Linked DNA regions of Homo sapiens: all the other regions are reported to be linked to region 2. Evidence: microRNA targets listed by miRTarBase, many of them from high-throughput screens and not tested one by one. Region 2 holds a microRNA gene; each other region holds the end of a gene's coding sequence.

Evidence for each region. Region 2 holds the annotated microRNA hsa-miR-3148 (UGGAAAAAACUGGUGUGUGCUU, at 1,183-1,204, shown strand). A microRNA usually pairs through its seed, bases 2 to 8, with sites in the 3' UTR of a target mRNA and lowers its output. Matches are read on the target gene's strand: a 7mer-m8 pairs with bases 2 to 8, a 7mer-A1 pairs with bases 2 to 7 and ends in A, and an 8mer does both.
Region 1: miRTarBase lists SCAMP1 as a target of hsa-miR-3148. Seed matches in the 3' UTR shown: 7mer-m8 at 843-849 and 7mer-m8 at 2,328-2,334.
Region 3: the mRNA of UNKL is a reported target of hsa-miR-3148. Seed matches in the 3' UTR shown: 7mer-A1 at 1,167-1,173.
Region 4: miRTarBase lists SLC25A21 as a target of hsa-miR-3148. Seed matches in the 3' UTR shown: 7mer-m8 at 2,553-2,559 and 7mer-m8 at 2,216-2,222.
Region 5: miRTarBase lists CYP1B1 as a target of hsa-miR-3148. Seed matches in the 3' UTR shown: 8mer at 2,687-2,694 and 8mer at 91-98.

Annotation. Positions count from the first base shown.
Region 1 is chr5:78,475,228-78,478,564 of GRCh38, forward strand. SCAMP1 (secretory carrier membrane protein 1) reads left to right here. Exons shown (of 9, transcript NM_004866.6): 9 at 277-3,337. The coding sequence ends at 441. Among named protein-coding and RNA genes, the nearest start is that of SCAMP1, 120 kb to the left of the region's middle.
Region 2 is chr8:29,955,185-29,958,521 of GRCh38, reverse strand. It overlaps MIR3148 (microRNA 3148), which reads left to right and starts at 1,174; the gene lies at 1,174-1,250.
Region 3 is chr16:1,363,503-1,366,796 of GRCh38, reverse strand. UNKL (unk like zinc finger) reads left to right here. Exons shown (of 15, transcript NM_001372107.1): 15 at 402-3,294. The coding sequence ends at 557. GNPTG (N-acetylglucosamine-1-phosphate transferase subunit gamma) reads right to left here. Exons shown (of 11, transcript NM_032520.5): 11 at 2,684-3,294. Among named protein-coding and RNA genes, the nearest start is that of GNPTG, 13 kb to the right of the region's middle.
Region 4 is chr14:36,678,085-36,681,421 of GRCh38, forward strand. SLC25A21 (solute carrier family 25 member 21) reads right to left here. Exons shown (of 10, transcript NM_030631.4): 10 at 1-2,635. The coding sequence ends at 2,574. It overlaps PAX9 (paired box 9), which reads left to right. Exons shown (of 4, transcript NM_001372076.1): 4 at 1-1,278. Among named protein-coding and RNA genes, the nearest start is that of PAX9, 18 kb to the left of the region's middle.
Region 5 is chr2:38,067,961-38,071,293 of GRCh38, forward strand. CYP1B1 (cytochrome P450 family 1 subfamily B member 1) reads right to left here. Exons shown (of 3, transcript NM_000104.4): 3 at 1-3,333. The coding sequence ends at 2,762. Among named protein-coding and RNA genes, the nearest start is that of CYP1B1, 6.5 kb to the right of the region's middle. RefSeq lists an enhancer at 2,964-3,108 and a cis regulatory region at 3,036.

The DNA of each region.
Region 1 (3,337 bases), not on the chromosome of region 2:
AAAATACAACTTTTTGAAGTTGGCTAAGAAGTTCTTTATTTTTGGTTTAAATTAGCATAATTATCTCTTCTGCTTGGAGAAGAAAAGGAAAACCTATATTAAGAAAATGTTTAAATACAATTATTGTGTGTCAGTTTGGTGGCTAATATTCTTGATCTTAGGAATCATGACTACAATCTAGTATTTTTATGTTTGATTAATGTTGAGATTAAGAGCTGCTGGAAATGAATGCGTAGGTTGCTACTTACCTTCTCCCACTTTTTTGTGCCTCTGTAGGTACATGGACTATATCGCACAACAGGTGCTAGTTTTGAGAAGGCCCAACAGGAGTTTGCAACAGGTGTGATGTCCAACAAAACTGTCCAGACCGCAGCTGCAAATGCAGCTTCAACTGCAGCATCTAGTGCAGCTCAGAATGCTTTCAAGGGTAACCAGATTTAAGAATCTTCAAACAATACACTGTTACCTTTTGACTGTACCTTTTTCTCCAGTTACTGTATTCTACAAATATTTTTATGTTCAAAACACACAGTACAGACAGCATGGATATTTCCTGTTCACTTGTGCATGGGCTAAAACCAGGAAAACTTCCTTGTCTTATTACTTTACCTAATAGTTTCTTAATATTTCAGTGCCCCTTGCAGAAAAAATATTACATGCTAAATAAATATTCTCCATATTTTTGGGGGATGACATTCAGTGAATTATTTCAGTGGTGACCCACTGAAAATTAATAATGGTACTTATGATTAAAAACGCATTTAATACTAACTGCAGTAGTTCTTTCAAGAATCTTTAGAGATAAGGATTGCACATTGGAAAAGTAAACCATGTTTCATTCCTTTTTCCCTATTTATATTGAAAGAAATAGGCCAGCAGAGACTTAGGGATTTTAAATTGGCTTGCTTTTTAGCTGTTTCAGTCACCAGTGAAGAGCCTATGTGCATTTTGTAGTAGATAATGTAAAATTTGTCATCTTTTTCTTTTCTTTTTTTTAGAATAGCTGATATTTTGATAACAATCTCTAATTTGCATGGGCACCACATTTCTTATATTAAAAGAATTAGTGTTTTGGCTTCTGTACTGCTTATGGTTGTAGGATTCAGGGGTTAATGGAATCACAGAAATGATATTCTGCAAGAATTTCTTTTAAATAAAAAGTTTGGGGGTGCAATATAAGAAGTTTATATAATATGCAGTACATTATCCAAAAGAGAAGGTAGTTAATGCAGTAGAAAGTAGTGGTAATAATTCCTTTTTAAAAAAATTTCGGTAGTCATATAGTAACATTTTGCTATATGAAAACTTTGGTATATTCTGTGGTTACAACTAAGATTGTGTCTGGCAGCTCTTTTTTGGGGATGTGTGTGTGTGATTTTTAACAGAGGTATTAAAGGCTAGCCTAACTGTTGTCTAAAAAGATTGTACAGTATTTAAGGGATTTTCCTTTTAGCTTTTCATCTCCAGTGGCATTAAACATAAAAAGACCCTGGCATTTTTTCACATACTTGAATCCCTAAATGCACCTGTCTTTCACTTTTTGAGACAGACTGAATATATCTAAAATTTCCAGCAATAAAAAAAAAAGCATTTAACTTGCACCAAGCAAGAAAATATAAATACAGTTAACTGCATTAAGATAATCACGTTAAAATTGTTACTATGCAGCACAGAACTTCATTCTTATAGTATTCTTGGGTTCAACCTTTGAATCAATTTTACCACTGATTAAATAAATGACTCAAAGACATCTGTAAGTCATGCTGCTGTGTTTTGAAAGTCTTTAACTAAATTAAGATTGCAGAATGATAGTGATTATTCAATTAGATTTTAAGTAAGGATTGTGATATTAGAGGCTGGAAATCCTTATTTTTTAAAAAATCAGATAGGCATAAATAGTTAAATCACTTTCATTCTCCCCAAACCTGTAGTTACAGAAAAAGTTTTATGCTAGAGGTGGGATGCCAAGTTTTCACTATCCATGAAGCAGCGCTGCATGTCACTAGGTAACACAGATCCATCCAGATGGTGTTTACATTTGATTTATTTGGGATCTTATTGACATCAGGTATACTTGGAAGACATTTCTTTTATTCTTCAGCGTATGAATTTAAAGCTATTTTTTGTAAATATTTCTAATCAGCGATAATTTCTACCTATGTTCTCAACCAACTTAGCCAGTTTGTTTTTCAGAGCCTGTAGTCTTATTGGAAATCTATTTTATCAGTGTGCTTTATTGAGTGTGGATTTTGCATACATTCAAAACATTAACCACAAAATACAGCAAGTGCACCTATATTCACCATTAACTTATATCCCAAGTCCATTTTTTCCTGTACACTACAAACAAAAGATATATTAGAGACTTTTGAAAAATGCTGAAATACTTTGCTTCAGAATTGGAATGTTTATATTATGTAGAAATCTTCAAAGGTAGCATTATTAAATAGCAAAGAATAATTAGAACCCACATATCTTTTTTTGTGTGGATGGGGAAAATGTTTTAAAATCCAGTTATTTAATATGAGTTTGAGAGAGAAAATTGTTTTTTAAAAATATATGTGCATTGAAATGATGGCAATGCTTATAGTATGATCAAGTATGAAAGGAACTTTAAATTCTTATATTTACTTTTCTCTCAGTAAATTGTTAAATTTTCACTCAGCAAAAGATTGGCATTTGTTAAGTGTTCTATATTTAGTACTAAAATCACAGTCATGAAATCATAGTCATAAAATGGTCTTCACACAGCAGTCATCCGTGTCATTTATCATTTTGTAATATTAAATTATGGCAATTTTATTTCAAACTAAAGTTTGAACACCGGAAAGTCATTACTCAGTGATTTGTAATTTGGGACTTGGATTATTTATCTAGAGATGTTTGTATATTTTGTCAGTAACTAATACTGCGCTGCCATCATGGTGACTGTCATGGTTCTACAGAAATGCCCTCCATGTGTCCCTCTAATGTTGCATGTTTCAGTGGGTTGGAAGTTTTGTATATTTATTGTATTAACACAGAGTGTCATAAAATAAAATGCTGTTTACTGGATGTTTGTTTGTATAATTTTGAACACTATAATAGCAATTCAGAGACAGACATTGTTAAAGGTTTGATGTATATAGAAATTCCATGTTTGATTTTTTAAAATATGTGTATAAGTCTGTCATGTGCTAAACAAAATAATATGAAAGACCTAGTTAAAAATTCTAACCAATGTAAAATGACCATTTTTCTGTTGCATTAGACCTTTACAGGTAATGGAACATGAGCTTCACCCATATTAAATATTTTGGCCCCTTTAAGGTCAAAATACAGATCATCTAGAAGTTAG
Region 2 (3,337 bases):
TAATACCAGAAGTGACATCCCATTACTCTTGCTGGACTCAGTTCTTTAGAAGTGAGTCATTAGGTCAAGCTCACATACAAGAGGAGGGAGTTACACAAAGGAGTGGACACCAGGAGGGAGGGGTCATGAGGGCCCTGCCAGCAGCTTCCAACCACATGCAATTATCTTCTTCATCAGCTCACCCAATGTATTCATTACTGGCAGTTCTGGGATATAAATCCAGGTTTCTAGGCCCTTGCTCTTTCCCCAAGAGTCTACCCTGGGAGGAATACTGATTGTCAATTGTAGTTGAAATTGTAAGCTGATTATGTAGCCATTTCTACCTACATTTTCTACATTTTTTTCCCTTGGCTTTGTTTTTGGGGCAAGTGCAATTTAGTTGTGAACATATTGCAATGAGGGGACTTTCCTCACATTTACTTATCCTTTATCCCCTCTCTCTCATTCTCTCAAGTAGTGTTTCAACCTCTTCAAGGCTTCAAATCTTTAACATTCTCACTCTCAGCAAATAGCTTTGTTTCCAGCTGCATAGAGAAAGTAGACAATATCAGCTGTGAACACTTTCAACTCCTGTCTCCCATGCACATGCTTCTCTCCTACTTTTTGGTTTGAGAGGATGGGAAGTCATTTCTTCTGTTTGCTCCTTCTTTGTAAAATTTCCTTTCCTTTCCTTCATATCTTAATTAATCAATTATTCACAATGTTGAGTCCACTGAGGACCAGTAAGCAGCCTTCTGTCTTTTCCACCTCAGTGCTGCACAATTCAGGAAGTGAATCAAAGAATAAAGACAGAGGCCACAGCAATATTATGGATAGAGCTGAGTTGGAGGATGTGGCTTGGTGTCTCTGTCAAATGGACCTGAGATCTGAACCCCAGGACTGGTCAGTTCTCAGCAGTGCTGTATGGTAGCCTTTACAGGTCAAAATTACATCATGGAGGAGCAGAGGCAAATTTGTGCCTTCTGTGGGCAGGTTCACTTCTGATAGGGCAAAGGGAAGACTTGAGCCAAGATTGCCATTTTCTTCCTAAATTTGCCAATCAAATAAGATAGAGTAAGCAATGTTAATTGAAGTCTTCCCACAGGAAGGCAATGTGTGGAATGGAGAAGGCTGCTTCAGCAACATCCTCTCCCATGCACCTTAAACGTCTCTTTCTTTCTCAGCTCCTTTCTGGAGTTAAGATGGAAAAAACTGGTGTGTGCTTATTGATGTAGCCAACAAGCATACATCAGTTTTTTCCAACTTAACTCCAGTATTTTCCCCAATTCATCCTGAAATTGCTGCCCTATCCATTCTCCCTCCTACACAGCCAAGATTCTTAAAAAACCAATCCAAATTTGCAGAATCTCCTCACTCATTTCTAACACATTTCTCAAGGGTTTTGACTTCAAAACTCAAGTAGAGTTTTGACTTCTACTCTCACCAGTGCATAGCAGTTGCCTTGGCAGGGGCCCCCAGTGACTTCCTGCTCATCAAAGCCAATGGACCTCTGGTGGTTTTAAGTTGAACTAACTTCTCTTTAATATTTAACCCTCCTGTACACTTCATTCCTCCAGAAAGGATCACTTATTTCCAGGCTTCATCGTTGATTCCTCTTGCCATGTTCACTATCAATGCTTTCCAGGACTCCTCTCAAATTTGATTAGTTTTATTCTGTTTACTCTTGGGTGAATTTTTTTTTCTTTGAGCTTTAACTGTCACCTCTTGCTAGTCACTCCTGAATATTCAGCTGGAGTCCAGACCTTTGTCTTGAATTCTAGATCCACATGGTACATTGCACAATCTGGCAATGCCAACCTTTCCACTCTCATATTTTCTACCTGTCTCCCCTTTACACACCCTGACCTAGCTATACTTTCCTGCATTATTCTTTGATCATTCTAAGCTTATTCTTACCCCAGGGACTTTGCACTTACTGTTACTTCTGCCTGGAATGCTCTTCCCCTAGAGGTGTACAAAGCTCATTTCTTTCATGTCTCTGCTTAAGTATCACAGCTTCAGAGAGTTCTTCACTCACCACTCCCACCTCTGTTTACATTTTATCGTAGAATTTATCACTATTCAAGTGTGTGCGTGAAGTGGGTGTGGTGTGTGAGCACACATATATGTGCTGATCCTAAAATAATTAAGTTCCTCAAGGGCAAGAACTTTGAATTATTCACTGGCATATCCCTAGTACCTATAATATGGATGCTAATGACACTTGTTTAATGGGTAAATGTTTGCTTGAAATTTGTCTTTATGACTCATCGTCTCTCACTAACTCCTACAAAGTGGTTTGTTACTAACATCCCTGTTTATGAATTTAATCTCAAATTTCTCTATTTAGTTTTCTCCTAAGTAACAATTTCAACAATTGAGGCTGGAATTTTATTTTCTTATAAGATTAGCTCAGAAAGCTAAATAAAACGCTTTGGGTTTTCTCATCAGAAAAAAGAAAGCTCAGGTGCACCGAGACTGGCCCCACAGTGTTTGCAATCGCTGTCATGATTGGGTTTCTGCAAGCTGGCCCCATGGGACAACTTCATCTTTCCTTTTCTGCCTGACGTCTTGCAATTGGGATTCCCGCTAGTACTGCCCTAAATCCTGGCAAGAAGACCTCTTGCTTTGAGCCCTATGCTTTAGAGAGCTCCACTCTCATCCTTCTTTGTTCCTTTCCCTCCCCATTAAGCAAGAAGTCCTTGGGATAAGAGAATAAAACCATCTGGACCCCATATATCTTCCTTCTGGAACACATTCCTGATACATGAGACCTCAGAATTCTCTGCCCAAATGGTCACAATTAAACTTCCAAGGCTTGTGGCCCTCTTTCTGAGGTCTTTCCTCTCTAGAGTGAAGTATGCTGACTGTGTGTGCCCACTTGAGCCAAGTGATGGTCAAATCATTACTGTTTCAAGGACCACGGGTGAAGCTTTAACTTACGTTCTTGGTTGTACACTGGACTGCTTGTGGTAGGAACTGGAGGTGGGAAGAGACCATTTTTCAGTAGATTTCTGGAAGTCTAAGGATTCTGAATTTGGGTATATTTGTGGAAGTAGCAATGTTTTAACTAGTGATGCTAGCTTGATATATAACTCATACATTGGATGTATAATCTATGTGGGCCTCCATTTGTACTCTTGGCCAAGGCAATGCTGATATTAGGGGTGAGCCTGGTTCCACAACTGTCTTCATAGAACTGCTGCCTTAGACTTATGTCTGTGTGGATGCACTGATTCTAGATGAGGTGTTTGCACTTTTTTTTTTTTTTAAAAAGACCTGAGTTTTTACATAACCAAAATCTTACCTGGAAACCCAGCATATAAATATAGATATAAAATGAATATATAAATATAAA
Region 3 (3,294 bases), not on the chromosome of region 2:
ACCCTCACACATGACCCCTCCACTTCGGCGTGCCCCTCCTCACCTCGCCTGCTAAGGGTGGGCTCTTGGACTCGCTGCTATAGGACAGAGGGTCCTGCGTAGCCCACATCCTGGGCACCCAGCTGCCCTCAGGGGCCTGGCCTGTCTGGCCACTGCCGTGTCTGTGGTGGCCCCAGGAGGCTGTCCTCTGCCCAGGGCTCTTAAGACAGAGCATACCCCCTGACCCCGCAGCTGCCTTCTCCCTGAGGTGGCCCTGGCTGGGGCGTCTCCCTGACCCTGTCTCTGTAGCTGGTGGCCGGGCGGCCTGAGATGCTGAGTCCTGCCCGGAAGGCCCTCCGGCTCCCCAGCTGGCCCAGCCTGGGCAGGGGCCTCCTGAGCCCGTCATTGTTCTGGCCCTGCAGGTGATCTTCCAGCTCCGCGCCAAGCAGTGTGTGGCCTGCCGGGAGCGGGCCCACGGTGCTGTCCTGCGGCCCTGTCAGCACCACATCCTCTGTGAGCCGTGTGCGGCCACCGCACCTGAGTGCCCCTACTGCAAGGGCCAGCCCCTGCAGTGGTGACCTCAGCGGGGACAGCCACCTCCTGCTGGGCACCCTGGCTCCAGCGCTCCTCCTGACCACGGACATGTCGTCACTCGCTTCTGGTGCCACCGACGTGAGGACCGAGGCTGGGAGCCCTTCCTGTTACACGTTATCATGAGGCTGGGAGCCCCGCCTGCGCTTGGCCTGACAGCCTTTCCTGTCACACGTTGTCACCTATCTAGTCCTACCGACGGTTTCAAGGTATTTTCCTCAAAAACCTTAAATGCAAACCCACAGAACCCGCCTGCCTGTCCCTGAGGGGCCTGGTGCCTCCGGGATCCACGCGGCGCTGTGATCACAGCAGTTTGTGGTCCTGACACTACTGTGACTAGGCCACTGGGAGCTGGGGTCTTTCAAAGCACTTTGTAAACCGAGGAATTTAGTTAGAGGTTATAAATTGCTCTAAGCTGCTTTCTGTTTTTTTTTAATATGCGATAATATGAAGCTTTATATGTGTACTGTGAACTTAAATATTTCATATCAGTTTATTGTCAATTCATAGTATGCTAAATATATTAGATTTCATATTCTGAAACTAGTACTTATGAAATGAGTGTTTATCTAGTAGTAAGACCTAGGATTTTTACATTTTCCAATTAAGTGCAAATAGTATTTATAAGCAGAGTGATTATGGATTGAGATGTTTTTAACTTGATGGAAGGAGCTAGTTTTCCTGAGCCTGTGTGTGCACCAGGCACTGGGGCTGATGTTCCAGCCTCGTGGCGTGGGAGCAGGAGAGCTCCGTCCTGCATTTCTGTGGTCCGTGGCCGCTGTTTCTGTGCGCCTGCGCCTCGGAGAGCAAGTGAAGGAGCATCATGGGTTTTGTTTTCTCCCTTAACCCTCTGAAAGACAGTTTGATACTAACAAAAAACGCAGCAGAGGGGATCCGACGTCAGAGCTTTTAGAATTACTTTTTTAAGCAGCTGTCTTCTGGCTGGGTGCGGTGGCTCATGCCTGTGATCCCAGCACTTTGGGAGGCGGGTGGATCACCTAAGGTCAGGAGTTCAAGACCAGCCTGGCCAACATGGTGCAACCCCGTCTTAGTAAAAATACAAAAATTGGCCTGGCGTGAGAGCGGGCACCTGTAGTCCCAGCTACTCGGGAGGCTGAGGCAGGAGAATCGCTTGAACCTGGGAGGCAGAGGTTGCAGTGAGCCGAGATCGCGCCACCGCACTCCAGCCCGGGTGACAGAGCGAGACTCTGGCTCAAAAAAAAAAAAAAAAAGCTGTTTTCTGATTACTCAGAGCTGTCCTAGGCAATGGTGCTTTGTAGCTCCTTGGAGATGTCGCTGGGCGTCCTGGCAGGGGTCAGGCAGTGAACTGGGAGAGTGGTTGCCTCCCCAGCACCCGTGACCACCCTGGTCCTGCTCGTGTGGGAGATGCTCGGGCCGTGTGTGCGCCAGGGTCCGGGGTGCCGGGTGTATGTGGCAGTCACCTGACCCGCGCTGCCAGTTATCATCGGAGCTCATCCATGTGGCCAGTGAGGTCACAGGAGAGGACCCGGCCACAGCCTCTCAGTGGCCTGGAGCACACGGGGGAAGCGACCCCCCCCAGGTCCCGGCTCTGCTGTGGTCCCCTGTCCCGTCTGCCCCTGGAGCGACAGTGTGGTTTCGGCCGCAGCAGAAACGTGACTGAGAACGCATCCCCGCGATGACCTGACCCTTCTGCTCAGGGCTGGGACTGTCCCTAGGAGTTGAGCAGGAACAGGCATCTGTGGTTTACGGCGACCTGGCTCTCCGCGGGCCACGTGGGTGGTGAGGGCACACGAGTGGGAAGCGGCACCGACGTGTTTCTCCCCGACCGTGGCTTTGCCAAAGACTTTTAATAGCATTTTTTAAGTGCAAAACGTCTAGGTAAAAATCTTTATCATCAGTGACCAAATTAGAATGTATTTAATATAGTAGGTGGTTTAAGAACTGTTTTAACGTAAGACAAACTGATAGCAACATTCTGTTGTTTTAAAGGAAGTGGGTCCGTGACATTCTGCAGCTAGTCCACTACTCCAAGGTAACTATCGACTTGGTTTCAGTGAATCTATTTTGTTTTTAACTACAGTGATTTATTAGCTCAGTATCTAGAAATTACGTATATTTTGTGCTACTGTCATCGATGTGTAAACTCTGTTTTTATTTGTATTTATGCACTTGGTTCCCATTTGGAGCCTCTGGTCTTTTCTGGGATAAGTGGTGTCTGCCGAGACATCTCCCGGTTGTCAGTGGTCAGGAGCAGCTGAGCTCTAGTCTGCCAGCTGCTCTGCTCTTTCTGGGAAGGAGGTGGCGCCCGCCCCTCAGGGTGTCTCCAGGGCTCAGCTTCCGGGGTGGTAGAGCTGGGGAGCCCCAGGGGTGGGGGGACAGCTGGGAGATGGAGGTGGCACCTGCTCCCCTAGATCAGTACTGGCTCTGAGGACAGGTGAGCAGTGGGAAGACCAAAGAATGGCTGGCAGCGCTGCCAGGGTTGGAAATGGGGGCAAGATCCTGGGGCTGTGTGCCCTGGGGCCTCCCTCACCTGTCTTGGTGGCCATGGCCTCAGGGATGGCTCCTAGGTGGCTGAGGCACAGCAGTGGCTGGAAGGTGCCCCGTGGAGGCTGAGGTGGAGGCGCGCCCAGCAGCTCCCCCCTGTGGCCATGGCGGGCACGGGGCGTAGGAGCTGGCTGGCGGCCGGCTCTGCATGTTCTTGTTGCCTGTCGTCTGTAACTCTAGTGTTCGACATTCGCCGTG
Region 4 (3,337 bases), not on the chromosome of region 2:
ACTGGATATGGATGTTGAAGATGGATTCCCTAGGTGATTTTAATTTCTTCCGGTCTGTGCTGTGCACAGTCTACATGGCAATGCGGTTCCACCACATCGGTTTCGTGGCTTCGTTTAAAACTCAGATGGCTAGATTAGTTAGGTTTTCAAATCACTAGGATGTAAACAGTAAGCAGATTTCTGACACACAAATTATGTTAGAGTGACTGCTTTTTTCAGACAGCAGATATCTTATAGAGAGCTTTGAACTGCATTTATTTCTAAAGCAACCGAAATTCAGTGCTACAAATAGAGGATTATAACTTCAGGAGAAGAATAAGCAGAAGGAGCAGATGAACTCTCAGGGCCATAGTCTTCCTTTGATCTTGTAAAACTTCCATTGACATCTGGAGTTCCCAGTCTGGTGAGAAAATAGACTATAAACTGAATGGAACAAAGATCCAATCCAATATTTTGGTGGAGACTTCTTTAAAACCATACCATACAGGGACTCTCCTGTCATCTGAAAAACTGATGTAAGGTACAGAACTATTCTTTATCAAATGTTTTTAGGTGGCTGTTAGGGGGCTTTAAAAAATATTACTTGCTTGTGTGGAAATGCAAATAATGTTATTTTCTTTATCTAAATTAAGAAATCTCTTGTTATTGTGCTATTTATAATTTTTTTCTGGTTCTTGTATTTTAAAAAATCTAATATTAATGGTATTGAAGTTTCCTTTTCTCCCTCTAGGTCTTAACAGTGAATTCACATGGAGTAATTTTTAAAAGATATCAGATACAATTTGCTATTCAAAGAAAATTATGATTTAAAGCCACTTTTTAAAATACGAGAAGGAAAATAGGATGGATTAAAGGGTTAACTTTTAAAGATTATTATTGGTTAATGTTGACATATTTCCTCTATCTCATAGATGGTAAAAGTGTTGCTTTTAAACTGGCAAATGCACTCTTCAGAAATCCTTTTCTATCTGATCCACATGGAGAGGTTAAAGGTTCAATTTCATGACCTCTATGCAGGCAGCGCTCTCATTGGATGTAAGAATATTACCTGCAAGGATAGAATGCAGTTGTGCAACAGAGACACATTCTTATTTCTTTTTTTTCACAATTTTGTTTTGTTTTTAATGACCCTTTTATTGAATATTGGACTGAAATATAAATTTTAAAAAACACGTTGGAAAGGATGTACAACAGAAGGCTATGTATGTATATACAGTATGTCAAAAGCCTTTTATTTTTATACTTCAAATGCTCTAAATTAATAAAAAGTAATAATTACCATGTTATCTTTTACTTTTTATTTTCAAAATGCTTTAGTGAAATAGCCCCGTAGTAGAAATAGCCCACGGTAGTAACTTAGGACAGGTGTCATATGGACTTTCAGTTATTCTTGTTGACTTTACTGAATCAGCATCATCTCTGGATGCAGATATAAAATCAAGTTTGGTTACATCAAGACCAAGGAGATATTTTTGTTGATACATGTTAGTATAGTAATCCTTAGAAATGCTAAGTGTATTTCTTTTTCAGAACATTTCCCCTTCATCATACATATTTTAATACTGCAGACAGCTGACTTCCCACCTGAAGTTGTCGTTTAAAACTAATAACCTGAAAATGCAGTTCTGTTCTATACATTCTTCCTAAAAATGGCACAGGTAGGCATGCTGAATAAAGGTATTTGGATGCAAATACTGATGGCTGACAAATGGGTCCAAAGGTGTTTCCAATTTGTGATTTAACATGACAATATCTCATCAACAAAACTTATCTTCAAAGAGAACTATGTGGAGGAAAGTAAATTTTATTTCATGTTTCCTACTTGTGTTAGAAGAGATTTGGAATACCTTGATTTAAACATGCTTAAACAACAGTGTTTTAACATTCTGTTTTAAACAATGTTTTAAAATACCTATTTATTATCTTACAGCAATATGAGATATAAAGTAGATGTAGGAAAATAGAGCTGATATGTGCATAGTTACTAAAAAAAACCAACAGATTTACATTTTAACATAGTATTCATAAAATTAAACATTCTTAAAAGGTCATTTTAGTGCACTTTAAAAAATTTTTCTTGTGCTCTTTAAATATTATTTATGGAATAATTTAATTCATTATAAAAACTGCTTAAATTTTGGCTTAACTTTTTTTTAATCCAGTCTTTGAATAATTTGATTTATTTTCAATAGTTTAAGCATTTCTAGACCTCTTAGGAAAAATGCTGATCAATACAATGAATTTTCATTGTGAAGCATTGAAGAGGAACACAGGAGACAAAGTTTCTATTTATTTTATGAAATAAATATATGATTTCTATGCTATTTTTCTATATTCACTTTAAATACCTCATTGTTTCATATTATTTTTTTCTTCTCACAGTTTTATTTATACAGCCAAAACTATAATCTCAAGTTGCCTATAGACATTTTTTAAAGTATTAAAATAGATTTTGTTCTTGAACAGTTTTCTCCTTCATAATTATACACCTGGCCGATCGATAGTCTCTCTTCTTCATGGTGCTGCATAGCAAATATCCATTATCTCAAGGGGGAAAAACACTTCATAGGCAATCACCAGTTCTCTTGAAGCCATGAATAGGTGTATTCATAAACCAGCAGCATCACTGCACCACCTAGAAAAGAAAAGAGCTGTTTTTTATTGCAAATCCTCTGGAATAGCACTGGCTTTCCCACTGGGTTTCTGAATCCATGATGTCTCGCACAGCCTGTCAGGCAGAGGCTGTTCGGAATCAACAGTTCTGGAGCTTCAATACCAAGATATAAACTACTGTGGAAAATTCTCAGGATAAAATCAAGACCATCTTGAGTCTCCAAATACATTTTTCCCCATGAGTTTTTGCAACTTTCATCATTTGTCATCAGATTCTTTTTCAAGCACTTTCAATTTTTAAAAGTAAATAAATATAGGCATATTTAGTCATGTAAGGGCATGTGGCTTTCCTGTGAACAGAAACCTTCAGATTCTTCATGTGTAGATAAAGGATTTATCTTTTTCAGTCCGTAATTAGCAGTCTTAATTGCATTCAAGAAGAAAATCTCTAAGATGGTGCTTGATGGATGAGTCTAGTTTTCTGTCATAGCTTTCAAACTGCATTGCTACGTGGAAATTAGATTCTGAATATTTAAAAAATCTGCATTGCAAAACCTAACAAAAGGAGGTTGAAAGCTAACCTTCATTCCTTTTATCTGCTTCAGTTGTATATGGATTTGAACTTGAAAATTTGGTAGTGGGGGTTGGATGGCATGAGACCACCATTTGTCTTGGAAGAAAAGAGCTACATAACTGGCTGTGAAGAGACATGCTCTGTATTATG
Region 5 (3,333 bases), not on the chromosome of region 2:
TGTAGTAACACTTCACAGGTAAAGGCTAAGTTCTGGGACATGAAAGCTTTTAGAAAATTCACAAAACAAACCTGAGACATCTTTTTGTTTTGGAAAAAAGCAATTTGCTTATAGAGTCAAAGCTTTGACATACAAATGAAGCATTTAATAAACATTATACTTTATTGCAATAACCTGGAGTAAAACTTCTGACTTTAATGGTTGTCAGCAAATACATTCTCTCTCCGGTAGAAACACAATGAGGGTTTCTGATTAAAGCAGTAATCTGATTACTCCAGCCTCCAAATTCAGTTATTTTCATTCGTTTTTTGTTTTCTTTTCCTTTCTTTAACTAGGTTATAAGCATATTAAATAAGCCAGGTAAACTCCAAGCACCTTACTTTCTTCCATATAAACACAGCTTTCCTTTTGCCGCAAGCATCTGATGACGACTGGGCCTACATACGTAAAAACAGATTATAGCACATCTGGACCTGGTTGACATAATGAGGCATCCAGATTGGTTCATGATTATTTTTGCAGCTACACATTTCTCAATCTAAAAAAATAGGCTACAGCAGCCCAAATTCACTGTCTCAGCCTTGGTGGGGCATAATATTTTGGAATGGCAAGTGCCAAAAAATTTAAATGTACTGGGCAAGCCTGCTTTGTGTAGTTGACTCTAATGCCTTTAAAAATACTGGCATGATTTTTTATATTCAAGAAGTACAGCTATGAAATTTTAAAATAAAATTACATGAAGTTTTTTAATATTCCAAACCACAAAACAGATCTGCTATGTTGTAGACTTTTTTAATAGCCTATTTGAGATTTAACTCTGCTACGCCAAACATCTTTCTTCTAAATGTCCATGCTTTGAATTTTGTGCTCCAAATTAATTAATTCAGAATGAGTGGGAAAATGTTTAACCATCTTTCCTTCTTTTCAGTGTTTCTCTCTTTTCTCTTACCATCCCCCCACCCCACACACACATACACACAACTATCAAAAACTCCCTTTTTTAAAATTTTGGTACAAAGATTCCAAAAAGCTTAATAAAATGTAATAAGCACTTAGCACTTAGGACACTGTAGAACTTTCTTTGGAAGTTTAATTGCAATGAACTTTAAAACTTGAAACTTCAATTCACTTTTCTAAATGTGAATGCATACATTTCATTTGAGCTTTATGCTTTCCCAGCTACCAAAGTAATTGCCATCTTAAAAAACACAACTGACCTCATCTCCACTGTCTTTTCCAAACAGCTTCCAAGACTATCTTCTGATTCTGACTTTCCAAAAAGCAGGCATTAATGTTAACTTTCAAAAAATCATCTAGAAGAGAAACTTGGTCAGTTGTAATGGGAGTTCTGTCCCCAACTCTTGTCACCTCGTAAAAAGAACATCCAGGTAATTCATGGCATTTTCCATTATTCATTGGGCAGACACAGCTTAGATTTCTCTGCCTTCCACAGGAGAATGTTCAGATTTCCACTAACTTCAACTGGAACTCAATAATCAGAATGGCTTTAAAATTTAGTTAAAATTTAAGCATGCCATGAATTTGGAATTTTAATATATTAATTAGGTTATTTTCAAAACAAGATTCTGTATTATAAATAGAATTTCAATAAAGATGTTATAAAAATAAGAACACATCTTAGGATCTAATTTTGAGATTCGCCAAAATTTGAGTGAAGAAAAGAAACCCTGCTTCATTTCCATGTCAAAAATAGGTGGTTGATTTAATCAAGCTCATTTTTAGCACACTTGGTTGCGTTAGTTGTACTTTTCAATTTTCAATATTATACAAGGCATATATTATTCAACCTTTTCCTGAACAAGATAATACTAATATACTGCTTACGGACAGTTAAGTAATATATTTCACACTATTTGGTGACTTTTTTTTTTAACCTATGAGACTTACTGAAATCAGTACATTATGGTCACATAATTTAAAGCTTGGCTGGCTTTTTTTTTTTTCTTTGCTGATAATTCAAATTCTGTACTTTGGCAAGCAAAAGAGGTACAACATCACCTTGGAGTTTTACAATTTAATAATGCATACTTTAAAATTCATGATAACTCATGGAACCCCACTATACTCACTAATTCAACTATTGATTTCTTTTTGAGCAACTGACTTTATGATTTATCCTTAAAAGTAAGGAAGTATACCAGAAGGCAAAAGGATAAATCCACCCATAAATACTAGAGTCTAAGTTATTTTCCTGAAAAGGTGAAAAGGGAATTTCTGGTCTTTATCTTTTCCCTTATCACCTTCAATCACACACTTTACACTGAAATTACTTGTCTCTGTCTCTTCAACAATATACTCTGAAACTTTGTTTAATATACTTTTTGTCTATTTCTGCATATGGGAGACCAATCTTGGATTCCCACCAAAAATGGCCTGGTTACCAAAATACTGCTTCATTCAGTAGTTTGGTGTAAGTGTTTGGGTGTATGTGTCTATATGTGCATTTTAACTCCAAAGAATGCTACCTTCAGAAATAACCAAGATGCAGTATGTATATAATAATTCATTGGGCCCTTTAAGTCTTTGACTCAAAAAAATCTCCCAGAAGCTCCTGCATAGCCCACTACTCATGAAGAACCGCTGGGTATGGAGCACACCTCACCTGATGGACAGTTGATTTATGCTCACCTTAAACGCTAATTGAGAAGCAGCACAAAAGAGGAACTGGAAAAAAACTGAATTTTACTCCTCATCTCCGAAGATGTGAATATTTCTAAAATTTCAGCTTGCCTCTTGCTTCTTATTGGCAAGTTTCCTTGGCTTGTAAATTTTGGACAGCACTATCAAGGAGCTCCATGGACTCTCTGAGAGTGACATTGACTTTAAATGACTTGGGTTTAATGGTTAGACCATAACTGAAATTCATTTTCGCAGGCTCATTTGGGTTGGCCCTGAAATCGCACTGGTGAGCCAGGATGGAGATGAAGAGAAAAAGCTGCATCTTAGAAAGTTCTTCGCCAATGCACCGCCTTTTGCCCACTGAAAAAATCATCACTCTGCTGGTCAGGTCCTTGTTGATGAGGCCATCCTTGTCCAAGAATCGAGCTGGATCAAAGTTCTCCGGGTTAGGCCACTTCAGTGGGTCATGATTCACAGACCACTGGTTGACAAAAACCACAGTGTCCTTGGGAATGTGGTAGCCCAAGACAGAGGTGTTGGCAGTGGTGGCATGAGGAATAGTGACAGGCACAAAGCTGGAGAAGCGCATGGCTTCATAAAGGAAGGCCAGGACATAGGGCAGGTTGGGCTGGTCACCCATACAAGGCAGACGGTCCCTCCCCACGACCTGATCCAATTCTGCCTGCACTCGAG